4 separate regions of the Homo sapiens genome follow, and regions 1, 2 and 4 are each linked to region 3. Evidence: fine-mapped expression QTL. A gene starts in region 3. Each other region holds a variant in brackets. All regions are shown on one strand. Distances are from middle to middle.

Region 1 (5,663 bases), 21 kb before region 3:
GTATCCTGAATACAGCACACTGATGGGTCTTGACTCTTTATCCAATTTGCCAGTCTTTGTCTTTTAATTGGGACATTTAGCCCATTTACATTTAAGGTTAATAATTGTTATGTGTGAATTTGATCCTGTCATTATGATGTTAGCTGGTTATTTTGCCCATTAATTGATGCAGTTTCTTCATAGCATCAATGGTCTTTACAATTTGGCATGTTTTTGCAGTGGCTGGTACCAGTTGTTCCTCTCCATGTTTAGTGCTTCCTTCAGGAGCTCTTGTAAGGCAGGCCTGGTGGTGACAAAATCTCTCAGCATTTGCTTGTCTGTAAAGGATTTTATTTCTCCTTCACTTATGAAGCTTAGTTTGGCTGGATATGAAATTCTGGGTTAAAAATTCTTTTCTTTAAGAATGTTGAATATTGGCCCCCACTCTCTTCTGGCTTGTAGGGTTTCTGCTGAGAGATCCGCTGTTAGTCTGATGGGCTTCCCTTTCTCGGTAACTCGACTTTTCTCTCTGGCTGGCCTTAACATTTTTTCCTTCATTTAAACTTTGGTGAATCTGACAATTATGTGTCTTGGCGTTGCTCTTCTTGAGGAGTATCTTTGTGGTGTTCTCTGTATTTCCTGAATTTGAATGTTGGTCTGCCTTGCTAGGTTGGGGAAGTTCTCCTGGATAATATCCTGAAGAGTGTTTTCCAACTTGGTTCCATTCTCCCCATCACTTTCAGGTACACCAATCAAACGTAGATTTGGTCTTTTCACATAGTCCCATATTTCTTGTAGGCTTTGTTTGTTTCTTTTTACTCTTTTTTTCTCTAATCTTGTCTTCTCGCTTTATTTCATTAATTTGATCTTCAATCACGGATATCCTTTCTTCCACTTGATCGAATCAGCTATTGAAGTTTGTGCATGTGTTACGAAGTTCTCGTGCCATGGTTTTCAGCTCCATCAGGTCATTTAAGGTCTTCTCTACACTGTTTATTCTAGTTAGCCATTCGTCTAACCTTTTTTCAAGGTTTCTAGCTTCCTTGCAATGGGTTAGCTCATGCTCCTTTAACTCAGAGAAGTTTGTTATTATCGACCTTCTGAAGCCTACTTCTGTCAACTCGTCAAAGTCATTTTCCACCCAGTTTTGTTCTGTTGCTGGCGAGGAGCTGCGATCCTTTGGAGGAGAAGAGGTGCTCTGTTCTTTAGAATTTTCAGCTTTTCTGCTCTGGTTTCTCCCCATCTTCGTGGTTTTATCTACCTTTGGTCTTTGATGTTGGCTTGGTTTTGGTGTGGATGTCCTTTTTGTTGATGTTGATGTTGATGCTATTCCTTTCTGTTTGTTAGTTTTCCTCCTAACAGTCAGTGCAGGTCTGCTGGAGTTTGCTGGAGGTCCACTCCAGACCCTGTTTGTCTGGGTATCACCAGCAGAGGCTGCAGAACAGCAAATATTGCTGCCTAATCCTTCCTCTGAAAGCTTCATCCCAGAGGGTCACCCGTCTATATGAGGTGTCTGTCTGCCCCTACTGGGAGGTGTCTCCCAGTTAGGCTACACGGGGGTCAGGGACTCACTTGAGGAGGCAGTCTGTCTGTTCTCAGAGCTCAAGCGCTGTGCTGGGAGAACCACTGCTCTCTTCAGAGCTGTTAGATAGGGATGTTTAAGTCTGCGGAAGTTGTCTGCTGCCTTTTGTTTAGCTATGCCCTGCCCACAGAGGTGGAGCCTGTAGAGGCAGTAGGTCTTGCTGAGCTGTGGTGGGCTGTGCCCAGTTTGAGCTTCCTGACCATTTTGTTTACCTACTCAAGCCTCAGCAATGGTGTATGCCCCTCCCCCAGCCAGGCTGCAGCCTCGCAGGTCGATCTCAGACTGCTGTGCTAGCAGTGAGCAAGGCTCCGTGGGTGTGGGGCCCTCTGAGCCAGGCACAGGAGAGAACCTCCTGGTCTGCTGGTTGCTAAGACCGTAGGAAAAGCAGTATTTGGGCAGGAGTGTACCGATTTTCCAGGTACCGTCTGTCATGGCTTCCCTTGGCTAGGAAAGGGAAATCCCCCAACCCCTGTGCTTCCTGGGTGAAGTGACACTCCACCCTGCTTTGGCTCGCCCTCTGTGGGCTGCACCCACTGTCCAACCAGTCCCAATGAGATGAACCAGGTACCTCAGTTGAAAATGCGGAAATCACCCTTCTTCTATGTCGATCACGCTGGGAGCTGCAGACCGGAGCTGTTCCTATTTGGCCATCTTGGAATGGACCCATCCATGTTATTATATAAATAAATAGCTCTTAAACTTGGAAACATTTTGACCATTGTTTCTTTGAATATGTTTTCTGTCCCTCTCCACCCGCTTTGAGGACTTCAAATCCACGTATATTAAATTGCATGAAGTTGTCTCAGACTTCCTGATGTTCTGTTATTTTTTCTCTCTGAGCTTCATTTTGCATAGTTTCTATTGGCATATCTTCAACTTCATTGATCTTTTCTTCTACAATTTATAACCTGCCATTAATCCCTTTCAGTGTATTTTTCATACCAGGCATTGTAGTTTTTTCAGTCATTATAAGTTCAATTTGTATCTATTAAATGTTTCATGTCTCTATTTAACTGTTTGAACACAAGAAACACAGTTATAATGTCTATTGTAATGTCCTTGTCTGGAAATTCTAACATCTGTATCATTTCTGGGTTCGTTTCAGTAGATTGGTTTTTATCCTTATTACGGGTTATATTTTTCTGCTAGTCTGTTCTATGAGCTCTGTTATGGATTGAATTGTGTTTTCTGTTCATTTACATGTTGAATCCCTAATCCTCAATATGACTGTGTCTGGAGATAGGGCCTTTATTATAAAGCTATACTAATTAATATTGTAGAGTTTTGTTATATCAATAGAAAGACAAATGGAACACAACAGAAAGTCCAGAAACAGACCTTTAAAGATATGAAACAAACTCAAACATATTATGAAACACATGATGAAGATGGTACTTCATAATCAGAGATAAAATTATGCATGGTTTTAAAAAATGGTATCTGGACAGCAGGCTACCCATTTAGAAATGGATAAGTTAGATTCCTTTCTAAAATCATGGAATACTTGAACAAAACCATAAGAGATAAGAAAAAAATGGAAAATCATGAAATCCAAATGTATCAAATATAAAAAGTGAAAATGAAGTTACAATAGAGCATGAAATAAAAATAAAAGTTATTATGCAGATGTAAGTTTGATTTTAAGGTTATCCATAATATATTATTACACAAAAAAAACTTACACACTATAGGGTATAAGTCTAGTTTTGTAAAAAAAAATGTATATGCTTACATAACGCATTGGACAGGACTCTTTGGTTGCAAGAAACAGAAACTCATCCAATTAAATTCAAATGAAAATAAGAGATTTTCATTTTTGT[G/TTGTG]TTCACATAACCAAACCAAGAAACACAGTGTCTGTGGGGAATGGAACTCAAGTTCAACAGGATCCAGCACTCAAAGGCACCAGGACTCACTTTCTGTCTCTTCATTTTTTGTTACAGCTTCTGTCTCTGTGCTGGTCTTATTCTACTGGGGTCTTCCACATGACAGAGGAACTGGTTACTAGCTGCCCTATAGTCATATCTTTAGGTCCCTCAGTTTAGGGAGAGAGGAGAGCTACCTTCCTACCCAAACCCTGGGCACCCATCATTGCAAGTTGTCACTCCTACACCTGCGGGTATCTAGGATCAGCAGCCCCATTTGAATCACAAACTGAAAAAATTTCCCAATGGAGGGGGATTTTTGGTATCAGAAATGCAGGAGAGGTTGGGCGCAGTGGCTCACGCCTGTAATCCCAGCACTTTGGGAGGCCAAGGCAGGTGGATCACAAGGTCAGGAGATTGAGACCATCCTGGTTAACACGGTGAAACCCCGTCTCTACTAAAAATACAAAAAATTAGCCGGATGTGGTGGCAGACGCCTGTAGTCCCAGCTACTCAGGAGGGTGAGGCAGGAGAATTGCTTGAACCCTGGAGGCGGAGGTTGTAGTGAGCCGAGATCACGCCACTGCACTCCGGCCTGGGCAACAGAGTGAGACTCTATCTCAAACAAAAGAAAACAAAACAAAAAAACAAAAAAGAAAGGCAGGAGAGGTGGGGAAGGATGCTAGGGAAAATAAGCAGGAATTGTGTTGTGAATATGTATATAATATATGCATAGTTATGATTAGACACAGCTATGGCTATAGATATAGATGTGTATACATATACACGTGGGTGGTTAGGAAGACTGAACTATGGGTACAACATTTGTTTTCTCTACGATGGTTTTGTTGTGTTTTGTTTTGTTTTGAAACAGAGTCTCACTCTATCACCCAGGCTGGAGTGCGGTGGCACAATCTCAGCTCACTGCAATCTCCACCTTCCAGGTTCAAGTGATTCTCCCGCCTCAGCCGCCCGAGTAGCTGGGACTACAGGCACCCACCACCATGCCTGGCTGATTTTTGTATTTTTAGTAGAGACGAGTTTCACTTATGTTGGGCAGGCTGGTCTCAACCTCCTGACCCCAGGTGATCCACCCACCTTGGCCTCCCAAAGTGCTGGGATTACAGACATGAGCCACTGCACCCAGCCTATGGTGGGTTTTTTTCTTACTTGGATTTTTTTCTATAATTAATTATCATTAATTATATAATAAATAAAAGATTTAAAAAGAAACTATGCACATTTTTTTTCCCAAAAGCCTTTCATTACTTTCCTGACATAGATTTGCCCTTCCCACTGAGGCTATAGGCATGAGTTCTTTGACTTATGACGTAGTCTGGGGCAGCCTCCTCTGCCGGGTACACAGCAGCTCTTCCATGTGGCTAGGTTGCCAGCCTATTTACATATCACACTATTTATGATGGCACTGGGTGAAATACCCTGATCAGTAGGGTCTGGCTTATTGTCACTGTTCCAAAGAGACCTGTCCTCATATAATGTCATAAAAGAGGAACCCGTTATCAGGGTCCAAGGAGACCTGGGAAGGCCCCTATAGTGTCGTCAGTCATTTTTAGTCTCGGGAGAGCCTTCCCTTCTCCCCAGCATTAAGGATGTCATATTTTTTCAACAATAGGAAAACCATTCCTGAGGGCAGGGTCTGTGGTTGTCTTTTTCCTTGCTGTGTCCTGGTACCTAGTGCACAGCAGGACTAGAGGAGTGAATGGTGCCACCTATGCTCCTTGGTTTCTCTGCCCTATCCCCTGTGCCCAGGGCGCATGTCCGGAGGGTGGCATGGAATCCCTTGATTTTTTGGAGGCTGTGGGCCAAATCCCGCATCACATCACAGGAGTCCCTATGTAAGCCAGGTGTGACCAGCTGTAATCTCCTCTCATTTCAGAGTCATTCTCCCCTCCTCCCTCTCTTCTCCTTCCCTGTCCCCACTCCGCAATTTGGTGTTCACTCTACTTTCCTCCATGACTTGACTGAGGGACTTGGGTGACTCCTCCCTGGAGATGACTCTTGGCACTGCTGGAGCATTTCATACAACCCAGGTCTCTGTTCCAGTCTTGTTGATTAAACCCATGGTTCTCCTCCAAGCATAAGGCTGGGCCCAACCATAGTCTCAACCAGAGAAAGGGAAAAAGTGACCAAGCTGTTTTCTTCCTCCATCCTTATCCAGAGAAAATATTAGAACCCCAGGAACACAGGAAGAGGAGAAACTAAAAAAATGAGCACAGACTTCC
Region 2 (5,663 bases), 36 kb after region 3:
CATTAGAATGTGGCAAGAAGGTAGAGGAACAAGATGGGGTCATAAAGTTGAGGAGGAGAGAACCTTAGGAAACTAAAGGTGAGGAGTGTGAGAGGTTACAGAGAGGCTGAAGAAGGCCAGGACTGGGGGAAGCACCATGTCTAGCACTTGAAAGGTGAAAGAGAATTGGGCTGGGCATCAACTTGGAGGAGATTGAGGGTGCATGATTGGTAAATATCTGGAATCCAAGCAGATTCAGAGGAAAGTGGCAAACTTCAAGTCCATTTAACCTAGAAGTCTGCCAGGCGCGGTGGCTCACGCCTATAATCCCAGCACTTTGGGAGGCTGAGGCAGGCAGATCATGAGGTCAGGAGATCGAGACCATCCTGGCTAACATGGTGAAACCCCATCTCTACTAAAAATACAAAAAAATTAGCCGGGCGTGGTGGCAGGCGCCGGTAGTCCCAGCTACTCAGGAGGCTGAGGCAGGAGGATGGCGTGAACCTGGGAGGCGGAGCTTGCAGTGAGCTGAGATGGCGCCACTGCACTCCAGCCTGGCAACAGAGCGAGACTCTGTCCCCCCCCAAAAAAAAGAAAACCTAGAAGTCCGAGAGTGGAAAGAAGAACCACCCCCCACCCCACTCCCTGCACCCCCTGCCAAAAAAAAAAAAAAAGGCAGAAAAGTTGTTAGATCAAGTGAAGGTCTTTCCTATGTAGAAATTTGATCATGTTTAGGAACAGAAGGAGAGATACTAGAGAGAAAAGAAACAATTATCCTAGAAATTTGGGGCAGAAATCTCCAGGTGTATGATAGTACCTTTGAATATTTTTTTCTTCTCCATTAGTCCTAGCCAGGTGACTGCTAGGAAGCTACATTCTGCGATGGCAGGAGTGAATTGTCCTGTTGGTCAAACTGGATGGTTGGGTTTTGGTATGGTCACAGTGTTTGGACATGTGTAGGTGGCTACCTTAGTTTTCTCTTGCATGTCAATTGTGTAACAGAAGTGCTTTGTTCATTGTAAAACATACCATCTGTTCCATGCCATAATATTTTTAATGCAGTTACCTATTGCATAACATTTTAAGATGATAGGAGAACAAAATACGGTCAATTGAACAATGCTTTTCTCTCCATAATGACTTAAGCATTGCCCTTATCATTTAAATGAAACCTCATCAGTTAAAACTTTGAAATATATTAGTTTAAGTCATCAAAATCTTTCTGTCATATTATACTGTTTGACAACTAAATATGGTTTCCAGAAACAAGACCCAGATGAGCAGAGCTATAGTAACAACAGTTCTGAATCACATACATCCTCGGCAAGACAGCTGTCAAGAAACATCACCCAACATATCAGCTGTGCTTTCGGCTTGAAGAATGAAGAGGAAGGGCCTTGGGCAGATGGTGGCAGTGGTGAGCCAGCACACGCTTGTCGCCACAGTGTGATGTCTACGACTGAAATTATCTCCCCAACCAGAAGTCTGGTAAAATATTCCTTCTTAAATACCCATACAGATATCAGAACCTTAAAATGTATACTTTGAGATATGAGTCATTTTTCCATGCTAAAACATGATTAAAACAAGATAATTTAATGAAAGCCTTTGGGTGGGGCAGTGGGGTTTACTAGTTTGGGAGATTATTTTGTTTCTAAATTAACTGGTAAGCGGCTCCAGGGAAGGGGAAACTCCTCCAGAACCACCCAATACAGACCTAAGCTTATCTTTTAAATGAAACTATTTAACCCCAGAACCACCCAATACAGACCTAAGTTTATCTTTTAAATGATCCTATTTAACCCCAGAACCACCCAATACAGACCTAAGTTTATCTTTTAAATGATCCTATTTAACCCATCAAAAGGTTTTCTGGACTCTATGGTCTCCAGAAAAAGAAGTAAGTAGCTTGCCATACATAAAGATGCATGTTTGGTGATACTTTTTTTTTTTTTTTGTGGTGGGGGGTGGTGCTGGTTGTAAGACAACATTTTAAATGAAATAACAAAGGAGTTTATTGTCTGTTATTACTTTGTCAACTAAAGAGACAGCTGGAAGTGGCAGCATGCTTCTCCAAGTCCAGAAGTGGACTTTTTGCCCTTGCTGTGAACTGGTATTCATAAATGAGGCCCCTGCTCTATCCTACTCTGCAACACAATTACTATTGAAATAAGAAAGGTGTATAGGAATGTGAAGTAAGCATGCTGTAACAAACATGTTGCATGGTATGATATAAGGGACAGTGGGGGCTGTGGAGTCACAGATGGTGGTTGGAGGGAGGCAGTTGAGGCGAGCAGTTGAGAGTAGGCTCTGGGAACAGACTACTGAGGTTTAAACCCTGGTTTTACCACTTGCTAGCTGTATAATCTTGCATGAGCTACTAAATGCCTCTAATCCTCAGTTTCTCCATCTGAGCAATGGGTATAATAATTGTACCTACCTTGTATATAAGATAACTAACTCCAAATGATATCATGTCAGCAAAGTATCTGGCATAATACCTGTCACGTCACTTGGATAGATACCAACTTCTCTTGACTCATGAGCAATCAACATTGATTAGTGAGCAATAATGAGCCACAGGTATTCTAGCTCTGTAGCCAGTGTTTTGAGTTTTCTCACTTGGCTCTCACCAATGTTGTGCTCTGATTTGAGGTCCTACAGGCTTCCTGCTGGCTGGTGGGGGCAGGGCAGGGGTGGGGAGAGAGGTGGTGGGCGGCCTTGGCTTCCATTTCTGATTAGATTAATTGTGTTCTAGGATTCATTTGTGCATATGCTCAGTGTAGATTTTCATATTCTGACCACTTGAGATATAAGATTTCGCTGGCCAGTCAACCCATAGGAGACAGAATTCCTGTTGCTACTACATGAGCTGACATGGAATGACTAAAAGCAACAACAACAAAAGAGTGGGGCCAGGCGCAGTGGCTCACAATTGTCATCCCAGCACTTTGGGAGGCCGAGGTGGGCGGATCACCTGAGGTCAGGAGTTCGAGACCAGCCTGGCCAACATGGTGAAACGCCATTGCTACTAAAAATCAGGCGTGGTGGCGGGCACCTGTAGTCCCAGTTACTCACTCAAGAGGCTGAGGCAGGAGAATCGCTTGAACCTGGGAGGGGAGGTTGCAGTGAGCTGAGATTATGCCACTGCATTCCAGCCTGGGTGACAGAGTGAGACACCATCTCAAAAAAAAAAAAAAAATGACCTGAGCTAGACCTTGAGCCTGACTATCTAAGAAGAGTAATGCTTCTGCAAATGCTAGTATCAAGGTGAAAATCTTACTTGCACTTAATCCTCATTGATCCTTGTCAGGTAGGTGTCATCATGTCACTGTCATGGTGAGCCACCTGGCTACACCTTCCTGCCAGTCCTGTTGGACCTGGGCTGGGACAGGAGCCTCTGCAGTAGCAGAGCAGGCCTGTGCTTGGCAGTACTAGTAGCA[A/G]GTACATTTGATGGGAGGTCCTTGTTTTCCAAGGATAATTGAACCTGGGCATAGGCCACGTATAGTACACTAATTTAGAGTGGGGACTAACGTTTCCTAGTAAAAGCCAGAGATGTTCTGACTGGAATTTCCTTCAAAAAAGGGAGTAAAACACTTAATATTTAGTCTTTTTAGCCAACCAAGTTTGTTGTTAATTGGAAGAGTGCTAATTTGTAGAATGAACCAAGGAAGACTCGACGTTTGAGATTTTTATAGACAGTGCATGTCACTTCTGTCAAGTATGACTTCTGAGGCCTGATTGTAAAGAGTGCCATTTTTTTGCAGAAGCATTCTAGTATTTCATCAGTTTTGTCAAGGATTTTTCATCCTTTCACATTCAAATCATTTTTTTTTTTTTTTTTTTGAGACAGAGTCTCGCTCTGTTGCCAGGCTGGAGTGCAGTGGCACCATCTCGACTCACTGCAACCTCCGCCTCCCGGGTTCAAGTAACTCTCCTGCCTCAGCCTCCCGAGTAGCTGGCTCACACCACCACACCCAGCTAATTTTTGTATTTTTAGTAGAGATGGGGTTTCACCATGTTGGCCAGGCTGGACTCAAATTCCTGACTTCGTGATCTGCCCACCTCAGCCTCCCAGAATGCTGGGATTACAGGCATGAGCCACCATGCCCAGCCATTAATTTTTAAAATTAAAAAAATTAGTCTGAAACAATAGTCAACTTATAGAAAGGTTGCAGGTGCAGTACAAAGAACTTTTTTCCTGGCACATTTGAGGGTCAACCTGATGTCCCATCACCCCTAAGGCTTCAGTGTACATTTCTTACAAACAGGACATTCCCCTGCATAGCCACAATGCAACCACTAAGTCTGGGGATTAATGTTGCGGCGTTACCGCCATACAATCCTCAGGTCCCATTCAAGTTTCACCAGTAGTCTCAATAATGTCTCTTCTAGCAAAAAGACCCAGCTGAGAATCATGAATTACATTTAGTTGCCATGGCTCCTTCAGTCTGGAAGGAGAGTTTCTTGGTGCTTCTGTGACTTATAACCATGACACGTTTGGAGATTACAGGCCAGTTGTTTTATAGAGCGTGTCTTGATCAGCATTTGTCTGTTTCCTTTCGATTAGATTCAGATATGCATCGTCGGCAGGAATAACAAAAGTGATGCTGTTTTCTACTCATTGCATCCTATTACATGGGGCAGATTTTGATTTATTCTATTTCTAAGGATATTCACTTTGATCACTTGCTTAAGGTGGTGACTGCCAAGCCTTTCACTTTAATCTTTTTCTTTTGTAATTAATATGTATTTTGTGAGGAGGTGCTTTGAAACTATGTAAAGATCTCATTACTCATCAAACATTCTATATTTATTTATCAAATCTGTAATTTGGAAGTAATTATAGATTCACAGGAAGTTGCAAAAATAGTACAGAAAAGTGCTGTGCATCCGTAGCCCAGTTTTCCGCAATGGTTGCATCTTCCATAACTATAGTATAATATCAAAACTGGGAAACTGACATTGGTACCACGTATGCATAGTTGTATGTTGTTTTATCACACGTGTAGATTCATGGAATCACCATTGCAATCCAGATGCAGAACTGTTCCATCACCACAAAGATCTTCACGCTGCCCCTTTATGGTCACACCTACACTCTGCTCCCAACCCTCCATTCTTCCAAACTCCTGGACATCACTAATCTGTTCTCCACCTCTATAATTTATCTTGAGAATGCTATAAAAATGGGACCATACATTATGTGACTTTTACAGATGGTCTTTTTCCACTCAGATGATGCCCTTGAGATCATCCACATTGTATAAATGGTCTGTTCCTCTGCTTTTTGCTGAGTAGTCATCTGTGGTGTGGATGTACCACAGTTTAACTGTTCACGTAAATATTTTAGAACATTTTGGTTGTTTTTATACAGACATTTTTATATTAGTATGAGCTCATGGTTTTCTGTTTAATTCAGTGGATTATTATATACTATCATTTTTTATTATTTTATTGCTCCAATTGTCCCCACTGTGGCCAGCGAAAGCTCCTTAAGCTGGCAGCCTTTCTGTTTGATATGTCATCACGATTATTTGATCATTTCCTTTTTGGCAGAAGGTGTTCCAAGCTCATCTTGTACTTTTCTATCCCAGCCCTGGAATCAGCCACTTATCTGAGGATGCCCCTGTGTATAACCCATCTCCCATCTCTGTTGCCATCCCCTCACCACATGGCTGTTC
Region 3 (5,663 bases):
GGTGTGGGCAACCGCTCCCTTCCTGTCTGCAGATCCCCTACCCACGGGGCGACTTGCTTGCCGGGTTGACATCAGCCACGCATGGCACAGGCTCCTCCTGGGCCAAAGCTGTTCTCCTGGCCCGGCCTCAGAGGAGGCACGTTCCGTGTGGCTTCTCCACCTTTGTGGTTGGTCTGCAGTGTTGTTAGTTGGCAGCTGGGGACCTATAAGAGGCTGACCCCAGGATCTGTGCAAAAGACATGAGAATGGGACATAGGAACAGAGGGTGAAAGTAGCAAAGAAACAACACAACATGGATGGAACAAGCCATTTGCAAGGTTGTGAGTTTGTTTAAGAGTTGCTATGATGGTGTAATATGTAATTAGACTTTCCAAAGTGAAAGAAAATGTGATTTATTTCAAAAAGATTGTGACCGTTTGAAGTAATGGAGACAAGAAGGAACCAAAGAACAGGAATCTGCTGGTAACCCCAGCACTGGCTTTTAGAGGGGTTCCTTGACCAGCCATGGGAATATTGGTTCTGTTCAGCTGGTAACCCCTGTGGCAGGGACAGGGACATCACGTTTGCACAGCTCCATGGCACTGTCCACTGGGATGCCTCATGCCTTCTCTTCTAATGCTAGGCCCACCCAGCAGCAGGAACCCCTGAAGCAGTATCTGTTCCTCCTGGAAGGGATAGGGCTCATTGAAAGCCACACATTGGCCCCAGCCTGCTCCATCAGATTCTTTGGAGTTAGTCTTGAGAACCTGGTCACCTCAGGAGGCATGGATCCAATCAGCTAAAGTTGGGGCCTGCTTGGTATTTTCTGACACCACTTCTGACACCAAATGTGTGCTTTTTCCTGACACCAGCCGATTCTCTGACACCCGCTGGGCATCCAACAATTCAAACAGATTCTAACACTAACTTCCAGAGTTAGCACAGATCTCACAGGGTAAGGCCTCAGTCCCACAAGACTGCCCCCCTTCAGATGCTAGCTACAAGTGAGGTAGTGACCCCACTTCTGCCTGGTCAACTACAAATTTGGGGGTTCTGGCTAGGCAAGGTGGCTCATGCCTGTAGTCCCAGCACTTTGGGAGGCTGAGGTGGGAGGATCACTTGAAGCCAGGAGTTCCAGACCAGCCTGGGGTATAAAAAGAGATCCCATCTCTACAAAAAAATAAAAATAAAAAATTAGCCAGGTATGTTGGCACACACCTGTAGTCCCAGTTATGCTGGGGTTATGCTGGATGTGACAGAGGCTGGGATGTTGGGGCTGAGAACTGAGGATCACTTGTGTCCAGGAGTTCAAGGCTGCATTGACTTATGATCGTACCACTGCACTCCAGCCTGAGTGACAGAGGGAGACCCTGTCTCAAACAAAAAATTAGGGGGTTTCTGCAACAACCTCTCAGTTTTCATAATTCACTAGAACAATTCACAGAACTCAGAAAAACACTGTACTTCCTATTCTTTTATTGTAAAGGACAAAAACAGCCTGATGAAGAGGTACACAGGGCAAGGCCCAGTGGGGTCCCAAGTGCAGGAGACTCTGTCTCTGTGGAGTCAGGGCATGACACCCTCCTGGCATGTGGATCACCAATCCCTAAGCTCCTTGAATCTCATTTTTTAAGAGTCGTTATAGCCCAGACCCCAGGCCATCTCCCATACCTGGAGGTCTGGGAGTAGGGAATGGGAGTGGGTGGCTGAAAGTCCCAGTCTTCCAAAGTCTAATCCCATGTTTGGTCTTTCTGGGACCAGCCTCCAGCCTGAAATTATCTAAGGGTCCACCCTGTGTCACCTCATTAGCATAAACCCAAGTGTAGTCCTAAGGGGCTTATTATGAATAACAAAAAACACTCCTGTCACCCAGGAAACTCTAAGCGTTTTAGGAGTTCTGTGTCAGGAACTGAGATGAAGACCAGATATATTTTTTACAGAGTTGTCCCTTGGTATCTGCAGGGGATTTGTTTCAGGACTCCCATGGGTACCAAAGTCCACAGATGCTCAAGTCCCTTGTACAAAATCATGTAGTATTTTTATATAACCTCCGCACATCCTCCTGTATACTATAATTCAGTTGTGAGTCCCCAAGTGGCTGGTCACCCCGCTTCCTCCTTTGACCTGCAAATATCGGCCGCACTGACCTGGCCCCTCTTTTACCTGACTCCTTTTACTTAAGAGGTTCTGAGGCTAGAATTAAAGGTCAGCCATAGTCATAAGGATGTTTTCTGTGCAAAGCTGAGACCCCCTTCCTAGGTGCCAGTCCCAGCCCCCAGAGAAGAAGAGGTGTGTTTGGGGTTATGCTGGATGCGGCAGAGGCTGGGATGATGGGGCTGAGAACTGACGGGAAGGTGCTAATGGGAAGAGGAAGAAAATAGGGCAGATGGGTATCTGGGAGCCTCTAGGGGAGGGGCCCACTGGGGCGGGTTTCTGCAGAGTCAGGCAGGGAGGGAGGAAGAGCTGGGAGGGTGGTCAGGAGCATATAAGTGTGGGTGTCTCAGCTTTGCTTCCACTGCCATTGGTCCACGGGACGGCCCTTCCAGGAGCCAGTGGCTGGGAGCAGTGCTGGAGGATCAAGGAAGCAGAGATGGACGGTGAGGCAGTCCGCTTCTGCACAGATAACCAGTGTGTCTCCCTGCACCCCCAAGGTGAGAAAACTGGGGCCCCAGCTCTTGCCCAGTGAGGGAGTAGCCTGCCTGTCCTTTGGCCCTCTGCCATAAGGCAGCTTATTGCTGTCTTATTGCTCTCCCCAGACCCTTGTCCTTGGGGATGCAGACCTGGCAAGAGAAAGGGGATGAACTTTGAATTCAGATGGTCCTGGCTTGGAATCCCGGCTCTGCACACTGAGCTGGTCCTGTGAGGCCTCCCTCCCTTCCTTTCTTCTTTCATTCAAACTACACTTTTGTTGCTCTGTGCTCTGTGCCAGGTTCTGTGCCCTGTGCACCACCAAAGCCTCCTTGAGATTTGGAGATCGGTGGTCTCGGTCTCAGAGCTCCTCAGCTCTGTGTTGCTACCATATCCACATCTAGCTCTGGTGAACAGCCCAAAGTGTTTTGTCTTCCTTCTCCATAACCACCTGCATGATAAGCATGGCAGGAGTTATCATCCCCATTAGACAACCCAGGAAACAGAATCAGAGAGGCTGTGTCTCAGCCTGCACAGCACCCTCTTACCTTGCACAGCACCCTCTCACCTTGGACACTGCCTTCTCCCCTGCAGAGGTGGACTCTGTGGCAATGGCTCCTGCAGCCCCCAAGATACCGAGGCTCGTTCAGGCTACCCCGGCATTTATGGCTGTGACCTTGGTCTTCTCTCTTGTGACTCTCTTTGTAGTGGGTAAGCCCCCAGGTGACCCAAATCTCACTAACTTTCTCTCCTTTCAGCACAAAGTCCCCAGGGGCCCCAGATGCACACTCTCTGGGCCTCTCTGCTCCCAGAAAGATCATTCCACCTCCAGCTCCAGGCCCAAGCCACAGCTTCCCTGGGAACAGATAAAGGCCACTGTCCAAGGGGGAGCCTCCCAAGAACTGAGGTTCATGAGGGAAACCCTGGGAGGGTCTTTGCTGCTATCTCCCCGGTTCTGGAACTCTACCTCTGTGTGGGACAGCGTATCCTCCCAGGCTCAGGGCTGGGGATTTGCTGACCTGGAAAAATGGAATGTCTCAGTTCAACAGCAGACAAGACCTGTTCCGAAGCCTGTGCAAGCCGTAATTCTGGGAGACAACATTACTGGGCATTTACCTTTTGAACCCAACAGTGAGTAGCCACAGTGGGGGTGGGGTGCAGAGGGAACTGGGGCCTTCAGATGCTCAGACCCTAGGATGAGCTTCTCTCCTGGTACCCTCTGACCACTGAATGGGCTCCACCATCCTCACAGAAAGAGATAATTTTTTAAAAACACAGTTTTATTGAGGTCTAATGGTGTATATATTTAAAGCATACAATCTGTTAAGTTTTGACATATGTGTGTGCCCCTGAAACCATCACCACAATCATCATCACATAGTCATCCTCCTCACCCCAAAGTTTCCTTGTGGCTCTTTGTAATTCCTTCCTCTCCCTTCCTCTCCTCATCCCTGGGCAGCCACAGATCTACTTGCTGTAACTATAGATTAGTTTGCTTTTTCTAGAGTTTTATAGATAAGAGATCATAGAGTATGTACTCTTTGTTCTTTGCTAGTCATGTGATTTGCAAATATTTTTCTCTCAGTCTGTGACTTGTCTTGTCATTCTCCTAACAAGATTTTAATTTTGATAGTCTAATTTATCATTTTATTTCTGTTATGGATTATTCTCATGATCTCGTATGTGAGAAATCTGCCTAATCCAAGGCTACAAAGATGTTCTCCTTTGTTTCTGGAAATTGTACAGTTTTTAGTTTTAGTTTTTGTTTTTGTTTTTTGACGGAGTCTCGCTCTGTCACCCAGGCTGGAGTGCAGTGGCGTGATCTCGGCTCACTGCAAGCTCTGCCTCCCAGGTTCATGCCATTCTCCTGCCTCAGCCTCTGGAGTAGCTAGGACTACAGGCGCCCGCCACCACGCCTGGCTAATTTTTTGTATTTTTAGTAGAGACGGAGTTTCACCGTGTTAGCCAGGATGGTCTCGATCCCCTGACCTCGTGATCTGCCCACCTCAGCCTCCCAAAGTGCTGGGATTACAGGCGTGAGCCACCATGCCCAGCCCGGTTTTTAGTTTTACATTTAGGTCTCTGCCTCATTTGAGTTAATTATTGTATAATGGTGTGAAATTGATTGTTCCAGCACCATTTGTTGAAAAAGTTATCTTTCTCCGTGAATTGCCTTTGCACCTTTGTTGAAATTCGATTGTCCATATGTGTGGGGGTCTACTTCCGTATTCTCCATTCTGTCGCATTGATTTGTTTGTCTATCTTTACAAAGCAGAATCTTTGACTGAACTCCCAGTACCTTGAAAGGTCCCCTCTCTTACCTTAGCACAGTAACTGAGGTCTCACACATCTACATAGGCAGTGCATGAGAAATAGTACATGGATGCTCCAGAAAGGGTCCCTGCCATCTTGGGTTTTTCTCCCTATTCCTGAGGGGAGACTGGAATCAGAAGGGGATCATGGATGTGTGAGATTAGGTCCTAGTTCATGAGGTGAACAAAGGATGCTAGCAGGACCAGAGGTAGATGCATGTGAGGTTGGTGGGAAAGACCTTGCAGATTAAAGGGGCTGTGGGGTCTCCTTCAACGACCCCAGCGCAAGGCCTTTTACTCAGGTTTCCTGTATCCTCAAACTGTTCTGTAGGGACCCTTGCCCTATGTAACACTGGGGGTGCTGGCTCTTTAAAAGGCCATCTCAGCTGAGGTCCAGTGTTAGTTACCTGGAGGGCATGGCATGCCTCTATCATAGCCCTGTTGATTGAACAGGGTACTTCCTCCCAGCACACCTATTTTGTTTTGTTTCTGTTTCTTTCCTTTGTGTTTTCTTCTCCATGGAATTTGCCATCATAAAACTTATGTTTGTGGTGGTTTTTATCAAGTAACAATGGTGAATCAAGAGGCTCTATGCTTGGTGTACAAATATAATGTAGGACTAACCACAGGCTTTATTCATACCTATTTTCTTTCCCATAATGACCCATCTGTGGTGAAATTCCAGTAAAATTAAACTTCAACAGCTCTAAATGATAAAATCAGTTACTTTCAAGTTGAGCAATT
Region 4 (5,663 bases), 68 kb before region 3:
AGGTCACTAACCACCTGTCTCCCATGTCCCCAGTGCTAGGAAACCCTCAGGTTTAGGGCCCTGTTGCCTCAAGCAATAATCATTTGCGATCAGTGATCTGTGTCACCTGCAAGCGGGTTCCAGACTGACCTTGGCAATCAGGAGCCAGGCATCTCTGGCACCTCTTCCTAGGTCACCCTCTCTCTGGTTTCCCCTTCACCATGTGAGCCAGAAGCTCTGCTCTCGGGCTCAGGTGGGTCCCAACAAGCATCCAAGGCCTGTCTGCTGAGTGGCCTATTGTCCATGGTGAATAGGAGGGGTTACCTAGGGACTGAGTCTCTAGGAGCCACTGGCCTGGGTGGGACCAGGCTAGAGGAATTCTCTATCTCTTGACCCTGGGAGAGGACTTTCAAAATGCAAGGGTGAGGAGCTGAATGACAGCCTGTTTTGGGTGACTGTTGGGCCTGTGTGGGAAGGCACTGGCCACTATCCAAGGCCCTCTAGAGGTGGCAGCCTCGGGGGCCCGTCCTCTTACCCCAAGATGCTGCTAGGAATTTATATCTACTGGAAACAGTTCTCCAGGAGCTGTTGCACATTCTTTGAAATATTTGTCATCTAACAAATGTTTATTGAGTTCCTAAAATATGCCAGGCACTAGGGGACAGCTGTGAGCCAAACAGACTCGAATAGTCGGTCATGTAGCCTATATCACTGGAGATGGCCAACCTTCCAGGGGCAGTCAGACTGATACAGGGCCAAGGCTGGAACCCTGGAGTTTGATCTTTGGGGGTGGGAGAAGCATGCTACCTGGTTGTTTACATGTTGCACATACCAGGGGATAAGTCTAAGTATCCGATTTTTTTTTTTCCTGGCTAGAAAACAGCCTCTGAAAATAACTCCCCTTAAATAAATGCTTTTTACTAAGCCTCCATGGTCCTGTAATAAACACCAAGAAGGGGAGTACAGTGCTTTGTGTTGGGTTCAGTTTGCTTACAAAACAAAACAAAACAACCCCAAACAAATGTGCAGACCCTTGCCTTGGAGGTGTTTGTGTGTGTGTGTGACCTGTGTTTGTAAATGTGTGTAGTGTGAACTAATTTCATCAACTTTTAAAATAATGACTTTTACTATTTTTTTTTTAAGAGACAAGGTCTCACTCTGTCGCCCATGCTGGTTGCAGTGACACGATCACGGCTCACTACAACCTTCTACTCCTAAGCACAAGCTATCCTCCTGCCTCAACCTCCTGAGTAGCTAGGACAACAGGCAGGCACCACCACACTCGCCTAATTTTTTATTTTTTATTTTTTTGCAGAGACGAGGGTCTCGTTATGTTGCCCAGGCTGATCTGGAACTCCTGGCCGCTAGGGCTTCTCCCTCCTTGGTCTCCTAAACTGTTGGGATTACAGGTGTGAGCCACCCCGCTCTGCCTTTTCTTTTTTTTCTTTTTCTTTTAAAAGGAAAACATGCATCTAAGAAAAAATTCTAAGCAGCACAAAAGATTAAGAAATGACTACCAGGTGTCTCTCCAGAATCTCAGCCCCATCCCTAGAAGCTCAAGCTCTCGTCCCATCTCACTCTCCGGTTTTAAAAATGAGATCAAGTCGCCCTGTCCGCGGTTCTTCCTGCCTGCCCGCCTCGCCGGCCTGGCTCTGGCTCCTAGCGGCGGGTCTCCTGCTTACCTTTCCTGCGCCCTCACTGCGCGCCAGCCACTTGGGAGAGTGCTTGCTTCCCCACAGCGTCGCCAGTTTGGTGTGTTACCGAAGATTTTGATCTTTGTGGGTCCGATGGGTTTCTTAAAGAAAGACATGAATTATGCTAGGGAAACAAGAGGAAGCAAGAGAAGGGCAGAATGTTTGAGGCAAGAGACGCTTTGCTTGGGTCCTGGGGGTGCGAGCGCGGGCTGGGGACAATGCGGGGGCAGTAGTTGCCTGAGCTCCAGATCACACCTGCACTCAGAGGCGGGAAGCCCTTATCCTGGTCACAGCCGCGCGAGCGGAGAGAGGCGGCGGGGCGGCGGGGTCAGCGGGAATTAGCGCGCCAGGGCCGGGGCGAGGGATTGCCGCGGGGCGAGAGTTCGGGACGGGATTAGCGGGTTCAAAAGCAGGTCAGGGAGAGCTAAGCAAGGCGACGAGGTCCGCGCGAGGTCAAGGTCCCCGAGAGAGGCGGGTTCCGGACTGGGCTCGGGAAAGGCAGCGGGCATTGCGATCGCGGGGAGGCTGCACCGGGAAGCCCAAGTTCCGAGCGCGTGGAGGGCTCGGCCGGCATTCGAGTGTAGGCCGCGCCCTCTGACGGCCGCGGGGCGAGGACACCTCTGACCATGGGCCTTGGTCGGGAGGAATGAGCGAGGGGCGAGGTGAACCCGGGTACGAGTGCGCGGCAACTTCAATGAATGTATCCGAGGTCGCCAGGCGCGCGCGCCGCAGATCTGCGGAACCGGGTTTATCTATTCGTCTTTTACATCGTAATCCCGTTTCCTTTTATTTTTACAACACTTTTTTTTTTCTGGCAAGGGAAGTCATCTCTTAGGCAAACAAACAGTCAAAAATAAAAATAAAAAACCGCACTGAACAATGCAAAGAAATGTTCTTGGCAGGAGCCAGTCTCTCCCGCGTCTCCTGGCACCTGTGGCCTCCCTGCGGAACAGATCCCAGAGTGTGACACCTTCTGTGTAAAAATAATCGCAACCCACACTCCACCCTTCTGTGCGTCCTGCACACGCACCAAGGGAGAGCTGGAAGGACAGCCGAGGGATACACGCTCTTCCACGAAATAAATATGTTTTAGGGGTGTGTGTGTGTGTGTGTGTGTGTGTGTCTGAGCCTCTGACTTGAAGTTATTGGAGAAGGTATTCACACATTATTTGGGTTCTCTCTTAAAGAGCTCTTGGGTTCTCTCTTA[A/C]AGAGCTCATGGGAAACACACCTGGCGGTACTGTGGGATGCGAAGTGGGCGCCTCACTCGGAAACCCCGGCCTTGGTGGATGATCTAAGAAAAAAAAAAACCCAGATGGACGGATACATGGGCACTTTCGGGATCGCTGGGTGCAGGCCGCCGTCGCCATTTCCACCGTCCACTACTCCAGGCACCTGCCTCTCGTCCCCAGCCTTGGCCTTTAGGTCTCCCTTCCCGCAGATGTCGCCTGGAGAAATGGAGCCCGGATGCTCAGGCGCGCGGCGTGGTATCCCCAAACCCGGGACCTCTGTTTTGGGTCTGGTTGATTTTCCACGGAGAACCGAAGAGTCCGCTCCTCAGGGGCGAAGTTTGCAAGTCCTTGGGGTAGATGGTGACGGGGGCTGGGGCGCGAGTGTGAAAGGACAGGAAAGGAAGGAGAGGGGAGAGAGAAGCAGGCTGAGAAGTGGGGGAAGCCGCGGAAGCCGGCAGCGCGGGAGCGGAGACGCGGAAGCCGGGTAGGGGGAGGGGCGGACTGGGACCAGGGCGAGGGGCGGGGCCGGAAACGGGCGGACTCGCGCCCTAGACAAAGCGCGGCCCGGTGGGCGAGGGCCAGCTGCTCTCCCCGCAAGGTCTCCCGAAACCGGGCTTTCGCTCGGCCAGCCGGCTGGTTCTGGTGGGGACGCGCAGGTTGCTAGTGGGGAAGCCAGTCCAAAGGGATCGATCGCCGGAGAAACCCCACGCATTCACCCAAACAGCCTTCGGCTCAGGGTGGCCGGAGCAGAGCCCAAGGGTCAAGGGCGAGGGGCCCCTTCCCTGCCCTTTTGTCCAGGTGGACTCTGTGGCCGTCGTTTTGTTCTGAGACCCCCTGGGAATGCCACTGCCGGGCCACAACCCCGACTGGCAGGTCAAGGTGCAGGAAGTCCCGCCATTAGAAATGCATTCCCCAGGCTGATATTACCTTCTTTTTCTCAGTTTTACAGTCATATACACAATGGTAAGACTCCTCTTGACGCCACTTCCAACCTCTGTGCACTGTTCGCATGGCTAGAACAGCAATAATAGAATTGAAAGCAGGAAAAATATCCCCGTGCTACCCCTAAAAGACTCAGTCTTTTTTTTTTTTTTTTTTAAATGTGCATCTTTATTTTGCATAATGTTAGTCCTGGTGAACATGTAGTTTTGTATTCAGTCTTTTCTACTTGAGGCCACACTTCAGTATTTGCTATGTGCTATGATCCTCATAAGTATACTTTTCAATGGCCGAGTAATGCTCTATTATGTTACTGTGTAATTTACTTAACCGTTCAATTACTTGATATTCTTCCGTGTCCAGTTTTTCTGTATGAAAATAATACACAACCTAAAATCTTCGTGTATATAGTTTTCTCCTTTGGGGAGGATTATTTCTTCAAGATTCTTACTGTTTCAGCAGGAAGGGGACATTTTCACTACTCTTAATAAATTGCCCAACCGCTTCCCAAAGCAATTTACGCAGGCATTTATTTTCGGGTCATTATGGGCGTGGTGCTACCGGTCAGGAATGTCCAGACTAAATCAGTCCCACCCTTAGAGCACTTTCCCTGCACCCCAAGCCTCTGGGAGGCAGGCCCTTGGAGCAAAAATTACCGCGCAAAGTGGGCAGCACGGTAGGGAGAGGAAAGAAGAGGCAATGGGAGCCGGGGAGTGGGTGAGGGGTGTGGGGGTTCTTTCCCCAGCCTGGAGAAAGTCAGGTAAGGCTTCACCTGACTTAGCAAGGAAGTGAAGGTGACTCCCGAGTACAGCCCCAGGCAGGGGTTTGCCAAGTAGAAATGGAGAGAGAAACATAGAAACCTTTGTCTGCGCAGGCTGCAAAGTTTGTTGGGTTTGGAGAGGTACGTAGTGGTTATACGCTGCGAGGGATCATAAATGTGGGTGGAAAAGTCCAGGAAAGTGGGATTCTCGCCATCCAGTCCAAGGAAATTGGAAACAGACAGCCTGGTTATTGTGCATTTGCATTATTTTAAACGGTTGCTGTATTAATAGAGGCATGATTACATAATCATTATTGTTGTAAATTATGTTTTACTGAAAACTAGTTTACATTTCCTTATTTAAAAATACTAATTGTCTTGCTTTCTGACTCTTGAGGCTGAAGAAAGAAATAGGAATTGTCCTTTAAGAAACAATTTCTTCTCTAAACCACAGTAATATGTATTTTAAATCATAAAAGCAATACATATATTATTTGATTTTTTAATAAGAATATATTCACATAAGATTAATTTAAAGATTATAAGTGAACACAAACTCATAAAATAATCAGACAAGTGTCTACAAGTCCTTCCTTAATCCTCTGTGCAGAAGTAGCATGGCTTATAGTTACTACGTTGCATATGTGAACTATTTAGATGTTTTTTGCAACAATGATTTATATTCCCTGCCACTCTGCAAATTGCCTTAAAAAAATAGGTCATAGTTTTCTTACATGTTAATGGAAGTAGCTCTATCTCATTCCTAGCAGCTGTCTTGGTAACATTATATAGATGTTCCATCATTTTTTTGTCTGTATTAAAAAATTACATATTTGTTTATGTGGTTGTATTTTATATAATAAAAGTTCAAACAGTGCCAAAAGATAAAGATAAAACATGACACCTCCCTTCATGCTTGTCCCTACTTCTACCCCATCTCATTCCTCAGAAGTGTGAAGTGAGAAGTTTGGGGATTGTTTCGGCAGCTCCCCTCCCTAGTCTGTTTTAAAAATAGTGTATTTAGGCCGGGCACGGTGGCTCATGCCTGTAATCCCAGCACTT

Which allele goes with the higher level. Alleles are on the strand shown, and positions count from the first base shown. SD is a standard deviation of normalised expression in the study named. Not every link is listed here.
As copies of G replace TTGTG in region 1, the expression in monocytes after Pam3CSK4 of the gene that starts at base 2,494 in region 3 goes down (moderate effect, 0.51 SD a copy in Quach 2016).
For the expression in tibial nerve of the gene that starts at base 2,494 in region 3, allele C in region 4 goes with a lower level than allele A (large effect, 1.0 SD a copy in GTEx).

What was found. PIP is the estimated chance that this variant, and not a neighbour inherited with it, causes the effect.
Region 1: its variant is fine-mapped to the expression of CLEC4F in monocytes after Pam3CSK4 (Quach 2016, PIP 0.95).
Region 2: its variant is fine-mapped to the expression of CLEC4F in whole blood (TOPMed, PIP 0.92).
Region 4: its variant is fine-mapped to the expression of CLEC4F in tibial nerve (GTEx, PIP above 0.99). The same link has a PIP of 0.9 or more in aorta, breast, cerebellar hemisphere, cerebellum, gastroesophageal junction and left ventricle.

The regions. Positions count from the first base shown.
Region 1 is chr2:70,838,759-70,844,421 of GRCh38, reverse strand. No RefSeq gene overlaps it. Among named protein-coding and RNA genes, the nearest start is that of CD207, 5.8 kb to the right of the region's middle. The variant G/TTGTG (reference allele first, on the strand shown) is at 3,382.
Region 2 is chr2:70,781,219-70,786,881 of GRCh38, reverse strand. It overlaps FIGLA (folliculogenesis specific bHLH transcription factor), which reads left to right. Exons shown (of 5, transcript NM_001004311.3): 3 at 1,243-1,467. Among named protein-coding and RNA genes, the nearest start is that of FIGLA, 6.6 kb to the left of the region's middle. The variant A/G (reference allele first, on the strand shown) is at 3,423.
Region 3 is chr2:70,817,430-70,823,092 of GRCh38, reverse strand. CLEC4F (C-type lectin domain family 4 member F) reads left to right here and starts at 2,494. Exons shown (of 7, transcript NM_173535.3): 1 at 2,494-2,630; 2 at 3,202-3,318; 3 at 3,649-3,738. The coding sequence starts at 2,570.
Region 4 is chr2:70,885,587-70,891,249 of GRCh38, reverse strand. It overlaps LINC01143 (long intergenic non-protein coding RNA 1143), which reads right to left and starts at 3,379. Exons shown (of 4, transcript NR_126384.1): 1 at 3,070-3,379; 2 at 2,902-2,964; 3 at 1,662-1,774; 4 at 1,266-1,429. RefSeq lists an enhancer at 2,872-3,522. The variant A/C (reference allele first, on the strand shown) is at 2,881.